Linked DNA regions of Homo sapiens. The protein of the gene in region 1 interacts with the protein of each later gene in a pairwise test. Each region holds a gene or a part of one and is shown in the gene's direction. Other genes may lie near its edges. The genes, in order: ATP1A3 and NPFFR1.

Region 1 (9,542 bases):
CGCTCCCGCAGCGGGCGCGGGACAGGACTTGTGCGCCGGCGCCCCGGACGCCGCGATTTTGCCTTTGGTTCCCCGCGAAGTCCGAGGCCTGGCTCTGGAGCCCGCCTGCGCCCCCCAGTGGACTCGCGAGAGGGTGCCGCGGGCGAGAAGGGCGCAGGAACCGAGGACTCCAGGGGCTGGGGACTTCGGGGGCGGCTCTGGGAAGCGGAAAGCAGTCAGCGGAGAGGACCCCATTCTGGGACTGCTCAGGCTCCCCAAGACTTGACGCAGCCCCCCACGCTTCTGGAGGTGGGGAGGGCCTCTGGACAGATGGGTGTCCCCTGGTGCCCCTCCACTCTTCTCTTCCTCTCTTTTTTGGGGGGAGAAACCTCGGAATTTCTATGAGACCTCCCCCAGGGAGGGGGTCAGTTGGGCCCCCATCCCTCCCCTTGCCACATCGCAGCCCCTGTTGGAATAAAAAAAAGAACAAAACCCCAGAACTGGGGATACCGTCTCTCATTTCCTGGGGGTGTGAGGGCTTTGGAGGCTTGGGTCCCCGGGGCACCTGCTGAGAATCAGAGTGAGCCTCGATGGTTACTTCCATGCTCTCTCCACCCTCAGCCCTGCCTACAGGCTGCAGGCCAGCCCGGGTCCCAGCAGCTGGCCCCTCTCCACTGACCTTCTCTCAGGACAGAGGGAGGCTGCGACAGAGACCCTGAGACAGATGGAGAGATGCAGGGATCTGGAGACGCGGAGACACCGGAAGCGGAGACACAGAAAGACAGAAAACAGATGGGGCTGGGGGAGGGGAGGGCCAGTGAGCTGTTGAGTGTGGCCGTGCCTGGGGTGGCGAGTGTGTGCCTGGGCCGGGGTGATTCAGTGACGTTGTGATCGTGTGTGCACGCATCTGCGAGGCCATCTTCAACTGTCTGTGGCTGTGATCCCGTGTTTCTGTTGAAAATGTACCTCCCCAACCCCCAAGAGAGGAAGTGAGGAATCCCAGTAGACTGGGGGGTGGGTGGGCGGGCAGGGGTGGGAGAGGCTGAAGGGCTGATGGCGCAGGAGAAAGGTGGGTCCGCCTTCTGTCCCCGCCCTCCCTGCCCCGCCGGAGGTTTCTGTGGAAACTGCAGCTGAGGAAGGACGAGTGAAGGTCACACAGCAAGAGCCAAAACGAGGCCGAGCAGAAAGGGAGAGATGGAGGGATGGCGAGAGACAGAGATGGGGAGAGACAACGAAGGGGGCAGAGTGGGCGGGAGGGGGATGGGGAGAGAGAGCTAGAGGACACAGAGCCGGCGAGACAGGGAGAGAGGCTGGGTGAGGTGAGAGAAGACTGGAGAAAGAATAGAGGGCTGAGACCAGAGGTGAAGCGGGAGGGTAAGATACACCCGGAGTTGGGGTGAGAGACAGGAAGCCATAAAAAACTAAATGGAACCTGGAGGGGACTGGAACGGAAAGGAAAGCCTGACTGGAAAGGTCCCAGAGAGAGCGAGGCTGCGCCCGTTCCTGGGCGGCGGCCCGGGGCTTGGGAGCTGTCCGTTCAGCACCCAGTTGGCCAGCCTGAGCCCAGAGCGCCCGACTTCCCTCCAGGGCCCGCCTGCCCAGCGCAGTCCTGGCAGGCCGGCCACACCCTGGGAGACCCCTCCCCGCACACAGCGCCCCCCGTCGCCACCCGTCCCCTTCTGCGTCTCAGACCCTGGTTGCGTGCCCCTCGGACAGGTGTGGGGGCAGGCACCAGCCTCTCTCTGTTGTCTCGCATCTCTATCTCCACGTCTCTTACACACTCCAATCAATGTCTCTGCCCTTGGGTCGGACTCTTTGTCGAGGTGACTAGAACATGATTACAGACATTTCTGGTTTCTCCCCCTTCTCTGTCCCAATGCCTCGAGGCCAATTCCCTCTGGGGTCTCCCCCATTTCTGAGTCCCCGGTCCCCTACCAGGTTTCTGCTCAGTCTCCCCCTGGCCTTTATCTCTGAGTCTCCCTGGTTTACCAAGCCTGTCTCTGCCTGGCTGTCTACGTCTCTCTGTCTCTGTCACCTTCACTGAACTCTTCCGTTGCTCTGTCTCCGTGTTCTCATCTCTGCATCTGCCAATCTCTGTCTGTCTTTTTCAATCTGTTTGTATCCGCCTCTCTCTGGTTCTGGGCTGCCTGTTTCTCCCTCTGTGTCTCTCCTTCCGCCTCTCACATCTAGCTCCCCTATTCCCCTTTATCCCTGTGACCTTCCCAGGTCTTTCCTTCTCACCGCCCCCCCTACTTCTGCAGAGCCTCACCAGGAGCACGATGCACAGTCATCAGTCTCATCAGGCTCGTGCCTGAGGAGAGAGTGCATGAGGGGGGACGTGAGCTTGTGTCTGAGGTGGGATGGGAAGGGCTCAAGGCCTCCCCCGGCCCAGCTGGAGAGCAAGAGCAGACAGAGCCTAGAATCTCCTGGAATCCAGGCCTCCCCCACCTCCCCAGGCTTCCCCATCTCCCCAGTCCCATTCTCCATGGTCCAGGCCCATGCCTCTAGGCCAAGGTGTCAAGAGAAGGAAAGGAGGATATGTTGATAGGCTCTCCCTCCCCTAGGAAGAGGGCAGAGTTGGGGAGGGGGCGTCTGGGGGTGAGGCATCTGGGTTAAAAGATGTGGCTCCTCCCCCTTTCCCAGTCTCCATGGCAACAGCCCAGTCTGCAGGCCCAACCTCCTTTGCTGCAGAAGCAGCTCCCTGTTACCATGGCAACAAAGGACAGCGAGAAAGATGGGGACGGGTCAGAGGACAGGATTGGGATGGGGCTCTGGGCACTGGGGAAAGCCTCCATTCACTCTCTGGCCTTGTCTCTGTCCATATGCTGTGGCTCTGAATCTCTGTGTTTCTGTGCCTCTCTCTGGCCTTCAGCCTTTCACACATTTCCCTGCACCAGGTCCTCGACCTTCACCCACCCACCCTCATACACCAAGCTCACTCCCTGTCCCTTGCCTGCGTCCCCCACATCTCCTATCCCATAGGTGGAGAGGATACCCACATTCTGAGAAAACTACAAGGTCAAATGCTCTCTGTCTCTCTCTCTCTCTCTTCCCCTTCTACCATCCCCAGGGAGAGTCTGGGGTGTTCCTCATAGAACAAAGTGGTGTTGGAGTGAGTGGGGAGGCCTCAACTTCTTGGGCTCCAGTGGGGTGGCTGATGGGGTGTTGTGTGTCGGCAGCAGGCCTGGGGTGTGGGTGCCGGCTGTGCATCTGTGTGTGTACATATACTGTGACGAGCTCTGTGTGTCATGTGGGTGAGGGCGTTGGGGTGTGTTTGGAGGTGCAACAAAGATGTCTGCGATAGTGCTGCAATAACGTGATGTGTGTATGTGTGGGAGGTGTGTGGGTGTCGCGTGACTTGTGTTTGAATTATTGTGCTATGTGTAAGTGTGTGCACCTTTTTGTCTGTCATTCACAGTTAGCATTGGCAACTTTGCACTGTGGGCCGTTGCTCATGCCCAAACACACTGGGGAGCAGTGTGTGTGAGGATGTGTGCGACATCGTGGGATCATGCAACGATGTCCACAAAGGCTGATGTAGTGTGTCTGGAGGCAGTGTGAGGCCTGTGCGTGTGTGATGGTGCTGAGTGCAGGTGTGTGTTGGTTTATGGGTTGCACGATGTGGGTTTCTATGTGAGATGGTGGGAGGTCAGGTGTGGTAGAGTGTGTGATGTGTGAGTCTGCGATTTTCTGAGTGTCGGTGTTAGTCCGCACAGCACTTTGTGGCTGTGATTATGAGTCTCTTGTGGTGTGATGGGTGTGTAAGGTGTGTGCCCTATGTGTGTTTCACTCTATGTTTGAGACTCTGTGTGTGGTGGGGTGGTGTTGTGTGTGTGAGGGTACATGCTGGCCTATGGTGGAATATGAGTGCAACCCTGTGGTGTGTGCGTGTCCCCAGCATCTGGGCTATCAGTGTGATGGTCCTGTGTAACTGTGACGCTGGGCATTTTCTGGGCCTCCTGGGGCCATCCTCCACCGTGTTGTGTCTCCCGTGTACCCTGTGTGGTTGTGGCTCATTGGATAGCTCAGGCGTAGTGGGGGGGCACCCACAGTGAGGGAATCTCAGGGCTCCTCCCGCCAGCACCCCTCCTCAATTGCAAGGCCTTTCTTGCTCTCTTGTGTTCCCTTCCAACTTCCCCTCCTGCAGGGCCCTCTCCCTGAACAGCACTACCCCCCGCCGTCTCCAGGGTCCCTGGTGCCACACTGCAGTGATTCACCGGGCTTCCCTCCCACCCCGTGTCACTACCCGCCCCCCCTCCCCCAGCGTACCCTTCTCGGTGATGGCACACCCCCACAATGAGAGGATTTCCGGGGTTTTCTTTCCCTGAGCGCCCCTTCTTGGAGGCCCTACTCCATATTGAGGGGGTCTCCAAGTCCCCTATTGCGGAGGTCTCTGGGAATCCCCCCACCCCCGCAGCGCTCCCCCTTCGCGGCCGCGCCGCCACTTTGCGGAGCCCAAGGGGAGGACAGCTGCAGTACCAGGGGCGGGGCCGCGGGCCGTCCGTCAGCACGGCGGCGCCCCTGATTGGCCAGCGCCGCCCCCCTCCCGCGGACGCGGGCATATGAGGAGGCGGAGGCGGCGGCCGCCGCAGCCTCTGTGCGGTGGGACCAACGGACGGACGGACGGACGCGCGCACCTACCGAGGCGCGGGCGCTGCAGAGGCTCCCAGCCCAAGCCTGAGCCTGAGCCCGCCCCGAGGTCCCCGCCCCGCCCGCCTGGCTCTCTCGCCGCGGAGCCGCCAAGATGGGGGTAGGTGCTGAGCCGGCTGGGCGCCGCTTCCGTGTGACATTGTGGGGCCGGTGACATTGGGTGTGCGCGGGGGGCGGGGGCACCGGGACCCCTGCGCTCCGGGGCCAGGCCTGCGAGACCCGGGGAGCCGGCTGACCCAGCCAATCCATGTGGTCGTGGGGCCGCAGGGGGCGGCGGGGGGTCTGTGGCGCACGTTGGCATGGCTTTGTGTGCGGAGATCCGCGAGGTTGTGGGCCAGCCCTCAGCATCTCCGCCTGACCTTGTGCGGTTGCATGTGCACAGTTGCATGTGCGTATGAGAGCTGCTGGCTCTGTCAGGCCCTGGCAGCGAGTGTGTGGGCCCCGTGGTGTCTGAAAGTCTGCGATCGCGTCTGGGTGTGTCTGTGAGAGCTCGTGTTAGTGCGTCTGGGGTTATTGAGGCCCCCCTGCTTCCCTGGCAGGGTGCGGATAGGTCCACGTTGTGGGATGGACACCAGATGACCTCTCTTTCTCCTTCCAGGCCTGGATGGGGGGACTCCGCAGTGTGTGTGTGTGTGTGTGTGTGTGTGTGTGTGTGTGTGTGTGTGTGTGCAGGCTCCGCAGTGTCGCAGCCTGGGGCTGCAGTGTGTGTGTGTGCAGCCCCTCATGTAGGGGAGCAGGCATGGGAGGCTGGGAGGAGGAGAGGAACAGGAGAGCCACGGTGGGGAGACTGAGTGCACAGCTGAGGGTGTGCGTGTGCAACTGTGTAGTGGGGAGCGTGCATGCCTGGCTGTGTCCTTGCCTCTGTGTCCGTGTGTCCTTGTCTGTCTGTGAGTCTCTCCAGCAGATGCCGCCTCCCTCCCTGGCTGACCACCTGACCCTTGCTGCAGCCCTGGATTCCTCCCTGTGTGTCTGGGGCGGGGCTGAAGGGAGGGGGAATCAGGAGAGGAGGGGGTGGGTGGGGGTAGGTGGGATGAAGAGGGCGGGAGAGGCCAGTGGAGGGAGAATAGGAGGGCTGGGGAGAAAGATGGCGGATAAAGGCTGATGGGCCCAGGGATGGAGGTGGGGGATGGGGCTGCAGATCTGTGGGGTGGGGCAGGGTGGGCCGGGGGGCTGGGAAGGAGGATTGGGTTGGGGCAGGACTAGGGGAGAGAAGGGAGAAAGGGGTAGTCAGTGATGGCTGTCAGGTAAGTGGGATGGAGGGAGGGAAGCTGTGGATGGATTGGGAGAAGACTGATGCTAAAAGCCCTAGAGAAGGAAGTTAGAGGGAGGTGGTCTTAGGAAACGGAGTGGGGACGAGAGGAGAAATGAAGGCAGCTTAGACATGGGAAGGAAAGACAGAGACACATGGAAAGACAGAGATGCTCTGAAAGAGACAGAGAAAGAGACATGGACATAGAGACAAAGAGACAGAGACAAGCAGAGAGACATGGCTGAGACACATGGAGAGACATTGAGAGAGAAAATGAGAAACTGAGGCTCAGAGGAAGAGACACAAGGACAGATATTTCCTATCTAGCGGCAACCACAGTCAGCCTGAGGGACAGGAAGAGGAGGCAGAGGGCAAAGGGGGAGGTCAAGGGAGGGATGGTCAGAGATGTGGGCCAGGTCCCCTGCGAGGGGGAAGGGAGGCCGGCCCAGGCGCAGAGGCTGCGGGAGCTGGCACCAGATCAGGGAGAGGCGGACAGCATGGAAAATGGCAAGGAGCTGCAGAGGCGGCCACAGCGAGACAGGCATGGTCCCCACCCTTGGAGGTGCTCCCACCCCGCAGCGCGCCCATCTGGGCCTCCTGCCTTGACTGGGAAAGCCTCAGCTGTGCACTCCAACAGATGGGAGCCTGCTCCCCAAGGGGGTCTGGCTGTGTCAAGGGCAAGCAGGAGCCAAGGCCAGGGCCAGGGTGAGCCAGGAGTCCCAGGGTCCCGGTCCCTCCTCCCTCAGACCAGGAGTCCAGGCCCCAGCCCCTCCTCCCTCAGATCCAGGAGTCCAGGCCCCAGCCCCTCTTCCCTCAGACCAGGAGTCCAGGCCCCAGCCCCTCCTCCCTCAGACCAGGAGTCCAGGCCCCAGCCCCTCCTCCCTCAGATCCAGGAGTCCAGGCCCCAGCCCCTCCTCCCTCAGATCCAGGAGTCCAGGCCCCAGCCCCTCTTCCCTCAGACCAGGAATCCAGGCCCCAGCCCCTCCTCCCTCAGACCCAGGGGTCCAGGCCCAGCCCCTCCTCCCTCAGACCCAAGGGTCCAGCCCCAGCCCCTCCTCCCTCAGACCCAGGAGTCCAGGCCCTGGCCCCTCCTCCCTCAGACCCAGGATTCCAGGCTCCCAGTCCTTCCTCCCTCAGACCCAGGGGTCCAGACCCCTGCCCCTCCTCCCTCAGACCCAGGGATCCAGGACCCCAGCCTCTCTCAGTATCTGAGAGTCCGGCCCAGCCCTTAGCATTTATGGGGCCCCGAGCATCAGCTCCCAGCCTTCAACTAAGGTTTCTGGGTGGGCAGCTGATTTTCTCCCTCTCTCTCTCCTGACCCCCATCTCACCCCTCTCCTGGCCTCCTGCACAGGACTTGACCCCAGGCCTTTGTAGCTCCACATCTCTCCATCTCTCCATGTCTCTCCATCCTGGGTCTACCCCATCGGGCAAAGCTGAGACCACCCCGGCACTGTAGGGCAGTAGGAAAGATGGTCTCCCCGTCCCCCAAGCCTCTGTGCCTCCGCATCTGAGACGCAGTGCTGCTGCAGGGCTGGCGTGGGGCCAAGCCTCCCTCCCACCCCCTGCACCCCTTCTTGAGGCTCCCAGATCTCCAGGCTGCTGCCCCTCCCTGCACACCCCCACCCTCCGACTCAGCCTCTGGGTCTGGGGGCAGACAGCAGGCAGCTCAGGCCCTCTACAAGGTCACGAGGAGATTAGCGCTGAGCCGCGCTGAGCCTCCGATCCCAGCTTGGCCCTGGGCCTGCGGGACCTGTCAGCGGCCCCTGCAGCACCCAGCCTCGCCCCACCCCTCCCACCAGCCTCGGACACTGCCCTCCCCATCCGCCCAGGCTCCCAAACTGGAACTTCAGGGACTCACACCATGCGCAGTTCAAGCCAGGACTAGGGCTTCTGCCTCTAACTCTCCTGCTCTGTCCTCCAGGAACCTGGCCATGCCCAGCCTCTGTTAAGGACGCTCCATGGGCCCAACACATGGAAGATCCCAGAGAGAGGCAGAGACAGAGATAGAGGAAGGTACCAGAGGGAGACAGTGAGAGAGACAGAGACAGAGAGACATAGACAGAGATAGAGAGGCAGATTCCAGAGACAGAGAGAGGAGATCTCAGAGAGACAGAAATAGAGAATAAGATCCCAGAGAGAAAGTGAGAGAAAGAGACAGAGAGAGAGAGGAAGATCCCAGAGACAGACAGCGAAAGAGAGAGGAAGATCCTACAAAAAGAGACAGATATATATATATATATATATGGACAGAGAGAGAGAGAAAGAGAGAGAGAGATTGAGGAGAGCCCAGAGAGAGACAGTGGGAGAAAGAGAGACAGAGAGGAAAATTCCAGGATGAGGTAGTAAGAGAGAGAAAGAGAATGAGAGATATATGGGGAAGGAGGGGGACGGAAGATTTGAGAGAGACAGAGAGAGGGAGAGAGAGAAAGAGAATGAGAGATATATGGGGAAGGAGGGGGACGGAAGATTTGAGAGAGACAGAGAGAGGGAGAGAGAGAAAGAGAATGAGAGATATATGGGGAAGGAGGGGGACGGAAGATTTGAGAGAGACAGAGAGAGGGAGAGAGAGAGAGAGAAAGAGAAAGAGAGGAGATCTTAGTGATAGTGAGAGAGAAAGAGAGATTCAGAGATAGAGAGGAGATCCCAGAGAGAGAGAGTGGGAGAGAGACAGAGATAGGCAGATCCCAGAGAGAGATATTAGAGAGACAGAGAGAGAGACAGAGAGAGGTTGAAACAGGAAAAGAGACAGGTAGGGAGAGATGTGAGCATCCCAGAGGAGACAGCTTGAGAGATGAAGATAGAGACACAATGACAGAGAGAGACAGACCGAAAGACGGAAAAAGACAGAGACAGAAAGTACTGATCCTTGAGACGCCAACTCAGAGGGAAATAAGAACCCAGAGAGACAGAAACTCAGCCAGACCTGGGGAGACACAGCCAAGAGATGGAGACAGACATCATGCAAGGCAGAGAGACAAAGAACCAGAGATCAGAGAGAGACAAAATCATAGAAAGACACATGCAGAGAGACCCAGAGACTGGGATCAGGATAGAGAATGACAGAGACAACATAAAGAGATCAGAGCGATAGAGAGAGAGAGAGAGCTATCAAGAGAGAGAAACAGCCTTGCAAAGACAGAGATACAGAGATGGAGAGATAAAGAGACAGGAGACAGAGAGATGATGAAACAAAGCAATAAGACCAAGAGCCAAAAACAGACCTGGAGATACACATCAAGGGAGACAGACAGAGGAGAAAGAGATGGAGATACACGTGGAGACATAGAAAAGACAGATACGAGGCCGGGCACGGTGGCTCACGCCTGTAATCCCAGCACTTTGGGAGGCCGAGACGGGCGGATCACGAGGTCAGGAGATTGCGACCATCCTGGCTAACACAGTGAAACCCTGTCTCTACTAAAAATACAAAAAAATGAGCCGGGCGTAGTGGCGGGCGCCTGTAGTCCCAGCTACTCGGGAGGCTGAGGCAGGAGAATGGCGTGAACCTGGGAGGCGGAGCTTGCAGTGAGCTGAGATCATGCCACTGCACTCCAGCCTAGGCGACTAAGCGAGACTCCGTCTCAAAAAAAAAAAAAAAAAAAAGACAGATATGTAGGAAGGTTGGACAGGGCCAGGGAGAGGGAAGAAGAGACAGAAGCAGA
Region 2 (9,769 bases), on another chromosome or scaffold:
CAGCTGCACGAGAGTCCCAAGAGAGACCAGGAGAAGAACTACTCAGATTGCCAAGCCACAGTGCTGTACCATTAAATTTTGGGGTGGTTCACAACATAATAATAGGTAATAGAAACAGAAATCTTGCTCCGATCCACACTCAAACAAACCAACTATTTAAAAAATTATGAAACAATCAGGAAATTTTGCTGGATGCTGGCTATTTAATGATATAATTACATAATTGTTAATTTTGTTAGGTTTGATAATGATGGAAACCACATTTTTTCATGTTGTTTTTTTGAGTCCTTATTTTTTAAAGGTACAAACTGAAACATTTATGGATGAAAGGAAGTAATGTCTGGTATTTACTTCAAAATAATCCAAAGAGAAGTGGGGATATGGATGAAACAACTCCAGGCCTCGAGTTGATAACTGTTGAAAGCAGATGATGTATACATGGGGGTTCTTTATATGATCCCTCTAATAACAGCTCATTAAACTTTATACTCTTGTATATGTTTATTACAATATTCTCTCTTCTACATGTTTGACATTTACCATATTAAAATAAAGATGTTTGAGTACAGTTGGAAGTCCTTGGAAGGCCTAAACCTGGGAGTATCATCTCTCATCGGGCACAGGAAGTTTGCAGGTTGTCCGCCTCCCGCCGCAGTCCCTCTGCCCCATCCCAACACTCACCGCAGTGCCCCCTGCTGGTCCCTGCAGCCCTGATGATGCCAGCTCGCTGGCCCTGCTCCTCTGAGGGTCTCTAACCTCCAGGCCCCCAGCCTCCATTGAGCCTCCAGGCCAGTGGCTGAGTTCTCGGTGTGACAGAAAGATTCCACAGGGACTCTTCATCCCCTGGAATAGGCCTCAGGAGGAAAGTTTATGACACAACATCATGAGTCACCCCAACTAATGACTTCCCAGAAGAGCTGTGGTTGGACACTGAGCCTTCCCTTCGAAGCAAGCCTGGGGAAACACACACCAAAGCCTGGTCCTAATTCACAGACACACAGAGCAGGGCCAGCTGTGCTGCAGCATCATTGGAGGACCTTGAGCAAGTCATGGAACCTTTCTGACCTCCATTTCAAATGAAGCTAACACCTTAGGGTAATTCAATGAGGGTTTAAAAAAAATACAAAAGAAAACAAATGAGGCTAATACCTAATGACTTACATCATGGGATGGCTCGGAGAGCTAAATAAAATAATAGATGTGGAAGTGTTATGTTAAATGCTATGCAGGCAGAACAGCTGATCATGGGATGGGAGGAGGCAAAGGTTGAGCAGGAGCCCCTGCTTTGGATGTTCTGCTGAATGTGATGTGCCTCTTCTCCTTAGCCCTGGTTCACAGTTCCCCTTCATTCTCCCTTTCTCTACTGCCTTCTTGCCTTTCTCAACTAAAGTTCCATGGAGGAGATGAAGGGGAACGACATCAAAGAGTTTGAGGGTATAATAATTGGGTCCCAGCAGAAAACAAATGGTGCACTCAGAAAGGGTTTAACTGAACAGAGTTTAATGGAAGAAGAGAGGGTTAAGAGAACCAGCCAGAAACGGTGAAGCACCCAGGGACTCACAACCACAGGAAGCTGTTACCATTGAGTGCAAGGAGAGGGAAGAGTGTTACTGTAGTCAGGTGAGGGCTAGAGCCATGAAAGGGGACTCACCCAATAGGAGCAGGCTGTGGCTATAGGGAAAAACAGCTGCTGAAAGAATTGGGCCAGGCAGGAAGGGAATCAGAAGACAAACACCCTGACCTCTCTCTCTGCTCCTGCCCTCCCATCTCCTTCAGGGCCTGGCATTGGCTGAACCCAGCTAGAAGCCAGAAGACAAGGGAACCAGGGCAATGCAGAACTTAGAGGTTAGCCTCTGGGGCACACAGGAGGGCCAAGAAAGTTGGAACCTAAATGGGATGGGGGAGTTAATAAAGAAAAACCAACATTGGAGAATGAGTTATGGGCAAGACAGGGCATGAAGTACAAGACCAGGGTTTGAGTGGTTGTAGGCTGAAAGTCTTGGATCAGTGCATCAAGTTGCAACTGGAGCTGGGGACATGCTTGGGGGACCAGGGCATGGTTAAGGTTTGGCACACAGAGGGTCTCATTAGTGGTGAGAAATCGGTAATCTCTTCTTTGCCTAAGGTCCTGACCAATATATTCCTTTGGTCCTAGGGGAGCCCTCCCAGCCTCCCAACAGCAGTTGGCCCCTAAGTCAGAATGGGACTAACACTGAGGCCACCCCGGCTACAAACCTCACCTTCTCCTCCTACTATCAGCACACCTCCCCTGTGGCGGCCATGTTCATTGTGGCCTATGCGCTCATCTTCCTGCTCTGCATGGTGGGCAACACCCTGGTCTGTTTCATCGTGCTCAAGAACCGGCACATGCATACTGTCACCAACATGTTCATCCTCAACCTGGCTGTCAGTGACCTGCTGGTGGGCATCTTCTGCATGCCCACCACCCTTGTGGACAACCTCATCACTGGTGAGTGCGGGCAGTTGGCAGCAGGAGTGTCCCCTACCCCCCACTTCAACTTCTCAGATAAGGCTGGAAATCAAAGCTTAGAAGACAGATATCATTGCTGGGCTGGCCTCTTGGCCATGCCGTGGTCTCGAACTCTCAAGACAGTCTTGGGGCTGAAGAGTTAGACTAGAAATAAGAGATTTAATGAATTTCCTGTTTTCTTTGTGCCTGGCATGATGTTACTTCTCATGCATTATCTTAATTCATCCTCACAACAATCCAGTGAAGTAGAGTTTATGGTCCTCCCCATTTTATGGAAGAGGAAACATGCTCGGAGTGGTTAAGAAACTGGTCTGTAGTTACACAGCTAATAGGTGTCAAGGTCAACATTCTCACACCCATACTTCTAATTATTGTATTATACCATTCAGTCCCACTCTCTCACGGAGCTCGCATGGGCAGAATTAGAGCCAGTGGGGAGAAGTGGAAGGGAGGCAGGTTTCCTCTGAATCGGGAACGAAAACTCCACTCATTTGAGCTGGAAATTGAGCAGGGCACAGAAGAGAGTCCTGCCTGTAAGTAATGAGCTCTCTGTCCCTTGGAGTGTCTAAGCAGGGACTGGCCGGCCACTCAGTGGACCACTTGACCTCTAAATTCCTGCCGGTGCATCCTGCAGATGTCAGAACAGTGCCATCTACTCTCTACTCTCTCATGCGACTGGCCTTTCTTGTTTTAGAATCAAGTTTCCACCAACCTGAGACTCCAGGTGAGGGACTGGTTTTCAGAGATATGGAGACCCCTAGAGGTCTGAGCCTGCAGATTCTGAGCTCAGAGCTCCCAGCAGCTCACTGGTCCTCAGGATCCAGAGCCTGGACAGCCCTATTCAGAGTGACTTCACTGACTCGGGGCAGAGGGAGCCACAGCCCACGTTTCTGTAGGTTCTAGGACCCAGGATGTGGAGCCAGTGCAGAGTCAGCTCCCCTCCACAGTACCAGCTCTGTCTGGTGGAACCGTTACCCACTGCTGAGTCCCAGCTTCCTTTGCCAATGCTGAACATAAACTGCATTCCTCTCCTTTCCAACACATAGACACACACACGTGTACTCAGGCACACATGTGCAGAGATGCACACATGCATACACATAAATACATGCATACCAGTCAACAGTGATATAATGAGGTCACTAGCTGGTTAAGGTGGCGTCTCCCCATCTTTTTCATACACTCATATTTAAAATATTGTTTGAATACATAAAACATTCAGATGATTCAATAGTCAAAAACTACCAAAATTCTCCAGTGAAAAATCTCCCTTCCGCCCCTGTCCTCTGGCCTCCCAGCTCTTCTCCCTCCTGGGAGGCAACCAGTGTTGCCAGTTTCTTGTGTCTCTTTCAAACACTATTTTATGCGAGTGCAAGCAAATTGAGGACATGCTAAGGTTCCAAACAGCCAGTCCCGTACTTTTACTTCCCACCACACCCCACTTAAAAATATACCATGTATGCTGTAAAAAAGATTCATTAAAATAAACTTACATGTTGTTATCCCATATTAATAAATAAAAGAGTTTCTCACTATTTTCACCAACTGCTTAGAATTCCATTGTATGGATGTACTACAATTTATTTTGATTTGTATTTATGTTGTTTCTAATAGAATCTTCTGCAATTAAATAAAACTTCACACAGCTTCACTATTTTTTCTTTCTTTTTTTTTTTTTTTTTTTTTTTTGGAGTCTCACTGTCACCCGGGCTGGAATGCAGTGCTGGGATCTCGGCTCACTGCAACCTCCGCCTCCCAGGTTGAAGTGATTCTCCTGCCTCAGCCTCCCGAGTGGCTAGGATTACAGGCTTCTGCCACCACACCCAGCTAATTTTTGTATTTTTAGTAGAGATGGGGTTTCACCATGTTAGCCAGTCTGGTTTTGAACTCTTGATCTCAAGTGACCTGCCTGCCTCGGCCTCCCAAAGTGCTGGGATTACAGGCATGAACCACCACACCGGCCTCTTTTTTTTGAGACAGTCTCACTCTGTCATCCAGGCTGGAGCGCAGTGCACGATCATGGCTTACTGCAGTCTCAACCTGCCTGGGCCCAGGTCCTGGGACTACAGGCATGTGCCACCACCAATGGCTAATTTTTCTATTTTTTGTAGAGATGGAGTTTTGTCATGTTACCCAGGCTTGTCTCAAACTCCTGGGTTCAAGCCATCTGCCCGCCTCAGCCTCCCAAAGTGCTGGGATTACAGGAGTGAGGCACCATGCCCAGCTTTTTCTTCCTTTCTTTCTTTTTGTTTTGTTTTGTGTTGGTTTTGTTTTTTTTTTAACTCACATACAGAAGGTTGAATCATTCATTCAGTTTACAGTTCATGGCACTATGTGATTTCACTCTGTTGCAAAGCTCTTCTTTTGTTTATTTGTTTCCTTCTATATACCTATTCCACTCTACATCTCTTCTCTGACCCATAGGCAGCCATTCTGTTATATTTCTGTCTTTTGTATGCATTCTCAGAAAATGTGCTGTGAATGGCCGGGCGCGGTGGCTCATGCCTGTAATCCCAGCACTTTGGGAGGCCAAGGCGGGTGGATGACAAGGTCAGGAGATCGAGACCATCCTGGCTAAAATGGTGAAACCCCATCTCTACTAAAAAATACAAAAAATTAGCCGGGCGTGGTCGTGGGTGCCTGTAGTCCCAGCTACTCGGGAGGGTGAGGCAGGAGAATGGCGTGAACCCAGGAGGCAGAGCTTGCAATGAGCGAGATCACGCCACTGCACTCCAGCCTGGGTGAAAAAAGAAAATATGCTGTGAATGTGTGCATGTTTTACATTTAAATATTTTTGTTAATATATAATTTAACATACATTAAAATCTGCCTTTTTAAGTGTATAGTTCCACAGGGGCTTTTTTGTTGTTGTTGTTGTTGCTTTTTAAAAAGACACGGTCTTGCTCTGTCACCAAGGCTGGAGTGCGGTGGTGAGATCATAGCTCACTGTGACCTCAAACTCCTGGCCTCAAGAGATCTTCCCACCTCAGCCTCCCCAGTAGCTGGGACTACAGAAATGCGCCACCATGTATGGCTAATTTTATTTTTAATTTTTGTTTTTGTAGAGTCAGAGTCTCACTATATTACCCAGGCTGGTCTTGAATTCCTGGGCTCAAGCGATCCTCCTGCTTCTTCCTCCCAAAGTGCTGGGATTACTACACCTGGCTGAGAATAGTATTTAGAAGCCAAGATCTGGGTTCTAGGTGTGCTCATGGGTATTGGGGTGTCATTTCTTCTAGGTGCTCTCAAGGGACAGAGCTAGGAAATATACGTATACTAACAGAAATATTTAACACACATATCTTTATTTCTATATCTGTCCATCTGTATGTGTATTAACATGAGTTCAGACTGATACCTCTGATTCTAACCCACTGTCACAGATTCATTTTAACTTGACCCTCTTCCTTAATGGTAACTTCATTTTCAGACAGTGAGAAATCTAGCTGTATTTATCTACAACATATTTACTTATTTGTTCAATCTTAGTATACACATAAGGTAGTTTCATTATTGCTAACATACTTCTGTGATTTGGGTTTGCCTGATATTTTCCCATAATTAAATCCAGTTTATTCAGTTTTGTCAAGAATATACAAGTTTAGTAATGACAGTACAGAATTTGTATACAGTTCTTTTTGCTGTTATAGTATACAGTCAAAATACTGTTTTGCAAAGTTACTCCAGTTCGTGTGTTCCTTCTTCACCCCTTCAGTGTAAATATTATTCAATTTAAATACAATATTATTCATTTGTAATATAATTAGACTTATTTGTTAATGTTTGTATTTTACTTTGGGTCCCCCCTCCCCAACCATATCCTGATAGATGTTAATTATTTATCTTGAGTAAGTGATTCATTGCCATGATTCTAAAAAGTCAGAACCATACAAAGATATACTCAGAGAGGCATCACTCTCATTATCTCACCTATCCCATTCATCCATTATTTCTACCCAGTTCTTATCTTCTCTCTGTATGGATAGCTAATCTCATTATTCTGATTTATCTTTTCTGTATTTCTTTGGTACAATGAGAAAATAACCATATATTTTCTTAATCTCTTTTTTCTCACATGAAGGGTAATATAGTACAGATAGTCTTTATACTTTGCTTTTTGCAAACCACATGCCTGTGGTTCCAGCTGCTCAGGAGGCTGAGGCAGGAGAATGGTTTGAGCCAGGAAGTTGAGGCTGCAGTGAGCCATGATCACACCATTGTACTCCAGCCTCAGTGACAGAGCGAGACCCTATCTCAAACAAAACAAAACAAAACAAACAAAACAACTGATGTCTGGGTCCTGTCACTAGAGATTCTGATTGTAACTGGCCTGGCATGGGTCTGAGCATTTGTTCTTTGCAAAGCTCTCCAGATGATTCTCGTGAGCAGCCAGTGTCGAGAACCACTGGCCTAGAACCCAAGACAGGGCTATGGGAGCAGAGAGCCAGGCAGGGCTGGACGGTCTAAAGCTCATGGAAAGAAATCACTGGTCAACATAAAGAAAATCTCACTAATACTGTTGACCCTTGAACAACATGGGTTTGAACTGCATGGGTCCATTTATATGAGGGTTTTTTTCAACTAAATGCAGATTAAAAATACAGCAAAACCCGTGTATATTAGGCCATTCTCATGCTGCTATAAGGACATACTTGAGACTGGGTAATTTATAGAGGAAAGAGGTTTGACTCACAGTTCTGCAGGGATGGGAAGGCCTCAGGAAACTTACAATCATGGTGGAAGGGGAAGCACATCCTTCTTCACAAGTCAGCAGGAGAGAGAAGAATGAGAACGGAGTGAAGGGAGAAGCCCCATATAAAACCATCAGATCTCGTGATGAGAACTTACTCACCATCACAAGAATAGCATGGAGGAAACCACTCCCACGATTCAGTTACCTCCCATGGGTCCTTCCCATGACTCGTGGGGATTATGGGAGCTACAATTCAAGATGAGATTTGGGTGGGGATACAGCCAAACCATATCACCATGTACATACAGAGGGCTGCCTTTTTCTATACACAGGTTCTGCAAGGCTGACTGCAGGACTTGATTATGTGTGGATTTTGGAATACTTGGGGGTCCTAGAACCAATGCACTGTATAAACGAGGGGATGACTGTAGTGAGAACTGTCCATGGTTTTATGGGCTGGTTGGTTCCTCATTTCTGAAAGTCTGCAAGCAGAGACCAGATAACACCTAGCAGGTCATGGAGGAAAGATCCAAGCTCAGAGGGGACCTGGCTTGGAGGGCTTTCAGTCTCTGGCTCTTGATGCGTGGGCATCTCTCACTCTGTGGGGGCCTCTGTCATTGCAGGGTGGCCCTTCGACAATGCCACATGCAAGATGAGCGGCTTGGTGCAGGGCATGTCTGTGTCGGCTTCCGTTTTCACACTGGTGGCCATTGCTGTGGAAAGGTGAGAGGTTTCCTGGCTGGATTATGCCTGAGCCAACTAGGGCCTGGCATTAAGAGGAGCCACTGCCTCTAATGCTGGGTTGGCTGGAAGGCTGGGGCTGCACCATGGTAAGTGGGGCTAAATCCTGAGCCACAAGGAGAAGGGCCCTGGGCCCAGCTGCCCTCTCCCTAAACTTGGGGAACCTGATGAGGACACTACCACCCCCTTCTGGAAGGCCTGAAGGTAGCCTTGGTTGGCTTTTGTTGGGATTCCTGGGGCCTGTGAGGAGCTCAAGAGCAGTCCTTATTTCCTGAGCAGCAGGAATCCTGCCACCTCTAAGTCTGAGCCAGGTGAGCCAGAGCTAAGGGGGCCAGCTTATGGGTGGGTCACGGTATGGCTGGGGAGGAAGGGTTTCTCCCTGCTCCTTATTCTGTCCCCACTGGCTCCTTGCTGGTTCCCGGCAGCCCAGGCTGTACTCAATCCCCACGTTCACCGCTTCTCGTCTCTCAGCCTCATATTCCATCAGATTCCCTGGTAAGTATAAATCTATCATGTGGCCAAAGGTATGGAGCAGAGCCAGGGAGAAGGAGGCTTGCAATCAATAAAGCACTGAACCCAGGAGGCCTCCATATTGCACTACATGAGTGCTCCTCCCCCACAGCATTGTTAGCAGGGGAAGGGCACCCTCTGGGTGCTTCACCCCAGGGAAAGGTGGGCAGGCAGATCAGCTGGAGATTTGCTCACTCCTGCCTTGGTGTATCATGTTGGGTGGGTCACCTAACTACTCTGAGCCCTTGTAGTCTCATCTGTAAAATGGTAGCTACCCTACAGGATGGTTGGGAGGCTTCAGTGAGCTCCTGCTTGTAAAAGCTTATGCACAGTTCTTGGCATAGAGTCCAAATATCAGTTGCTAATAGTATGTTGTTTCTTCTGCACACCCATCCCCTCCTCCTTGTTCTCTCCCCAGCACAGGCATATCTTAACCCTGCCCTTTGTGGAATCTAGTGTTCACATCCTCTCTCCACCTCAAGCCCAGTTTTTTGTAACTCAGTGAAGTAGGCAGCTGGAGTAATGAAGTGGGTTCTACTCTCCACAAGGCCACTAACTAGCTGGGTGATCAGGAGAAGTCCCTTCCCTTCATCGACCTTTGTTTTGTTATCATTGTTGAAGGAAATGAGAGTGTACAACTTCTCCCAGTGGTGTTTGCAGTATTCTTCAAGTCCCACCTCATCCAGGAAGCCTGCCCAGATTACCCCAAGATTCTCCTCCACCCATTTACTGCTATTGCATTCATAGCCAGCACTACAGGCTTTAAGAATTATTTATTCTCTGGAGATTTCTTTTTCTTTCTTTCTTTCTTTTTTTTTTTTGAGGGGGGAGACAGAGTCTTGCTCTGTCACCCAGGCTGGAGTGCCATGGCGATCTTGGCTGACTGCAACCTCTGCCTCCCGGGTTCAAGCCATTCTCGTGCCTCAGTCCCCGGAGTAGCTGGGATTGCAGGTGCGCACCACCATGCATGGCTAATTTTTGTCTTTTTAGTAGAGAAGGGTTTCACCATGTTGGCCAGGCTGGTCTCGAACTCCTGTCCTCAAGTGATCCACCCTCCTCAGCCTCCCAAAGTGCTGACATAAGCCACTATTCTCTGGAGCTTTCTTGAGTATGTGAAGTATGAAGCCAGTAGGTCAAAGTCATATAGGTTGAGATAACAAGGCCTGAGTCAGGCTGTGGGAGAGGTAAAAGGTCAGGCTATCAGGCCAAAAACTGGGTTGGCAGGAGGGCAGGACACAGTGTAGCGAAGTGGAAAGGACACTTGACTGAGAGTCAGCTCTAGACCTATGTTCCAGGGCAGGCTCTGACTCCAAACAGCCATGTGACCATAAGAC

Evidence for each region.
Region 2: the proteins of ATP1A3 (region 1) and NPFFR1 interact in binary tests that used the Homo sapiens proteins (3 or more experiments, as listed by UniProt).

What each region holds. Positions count from the first base shown.
Region 1 is NC_000019.10:41,989,258-41,998,799, reverse strand, and holds the start of ATP1A3 (sodium/potassium-transporting ATPase subunit alpha-3), read left to right. Parts: upstream 1-4,569; 5' UTR 4,570-4,723; coding exon 4,724-4,729; intron 4,730-5,332; exon of another isoform or gene 5,333-5,368; coding exon of another isoform or gene 5,369-5,407; intron 5,408-5,573; exon of another isoform or gene 5,574-5,592; intron 5,593-9,542. UniProt on the Homo sapiens protein: This is the catalytic component of the active enzyme, which catalyzes the hydrolysis of ATP coupled with the exchange of sodium and potassium ions across the plasma membrane.
Region 2 is NC_000010.11:70,258,778-70,268,546, reverse strand, and holds part of NPFFR1 (neuropeptide FF receptor 1), read left to right. Parts: intron 1-2,155; coding exon 2,156-2,470; intron 2,471-7,807; coding exon 7,808-7,907; intron 7,908-9,769. UniProt on the Homo sapiens protein: Receptor for NPAF (A-18-F-amide) and NPFF (F-8-F-amide) neuropeptides, also known as morphine-modulating peptides. Can also be activated by a variety of naturally occurring or synthetic FMRF-amide like ligands.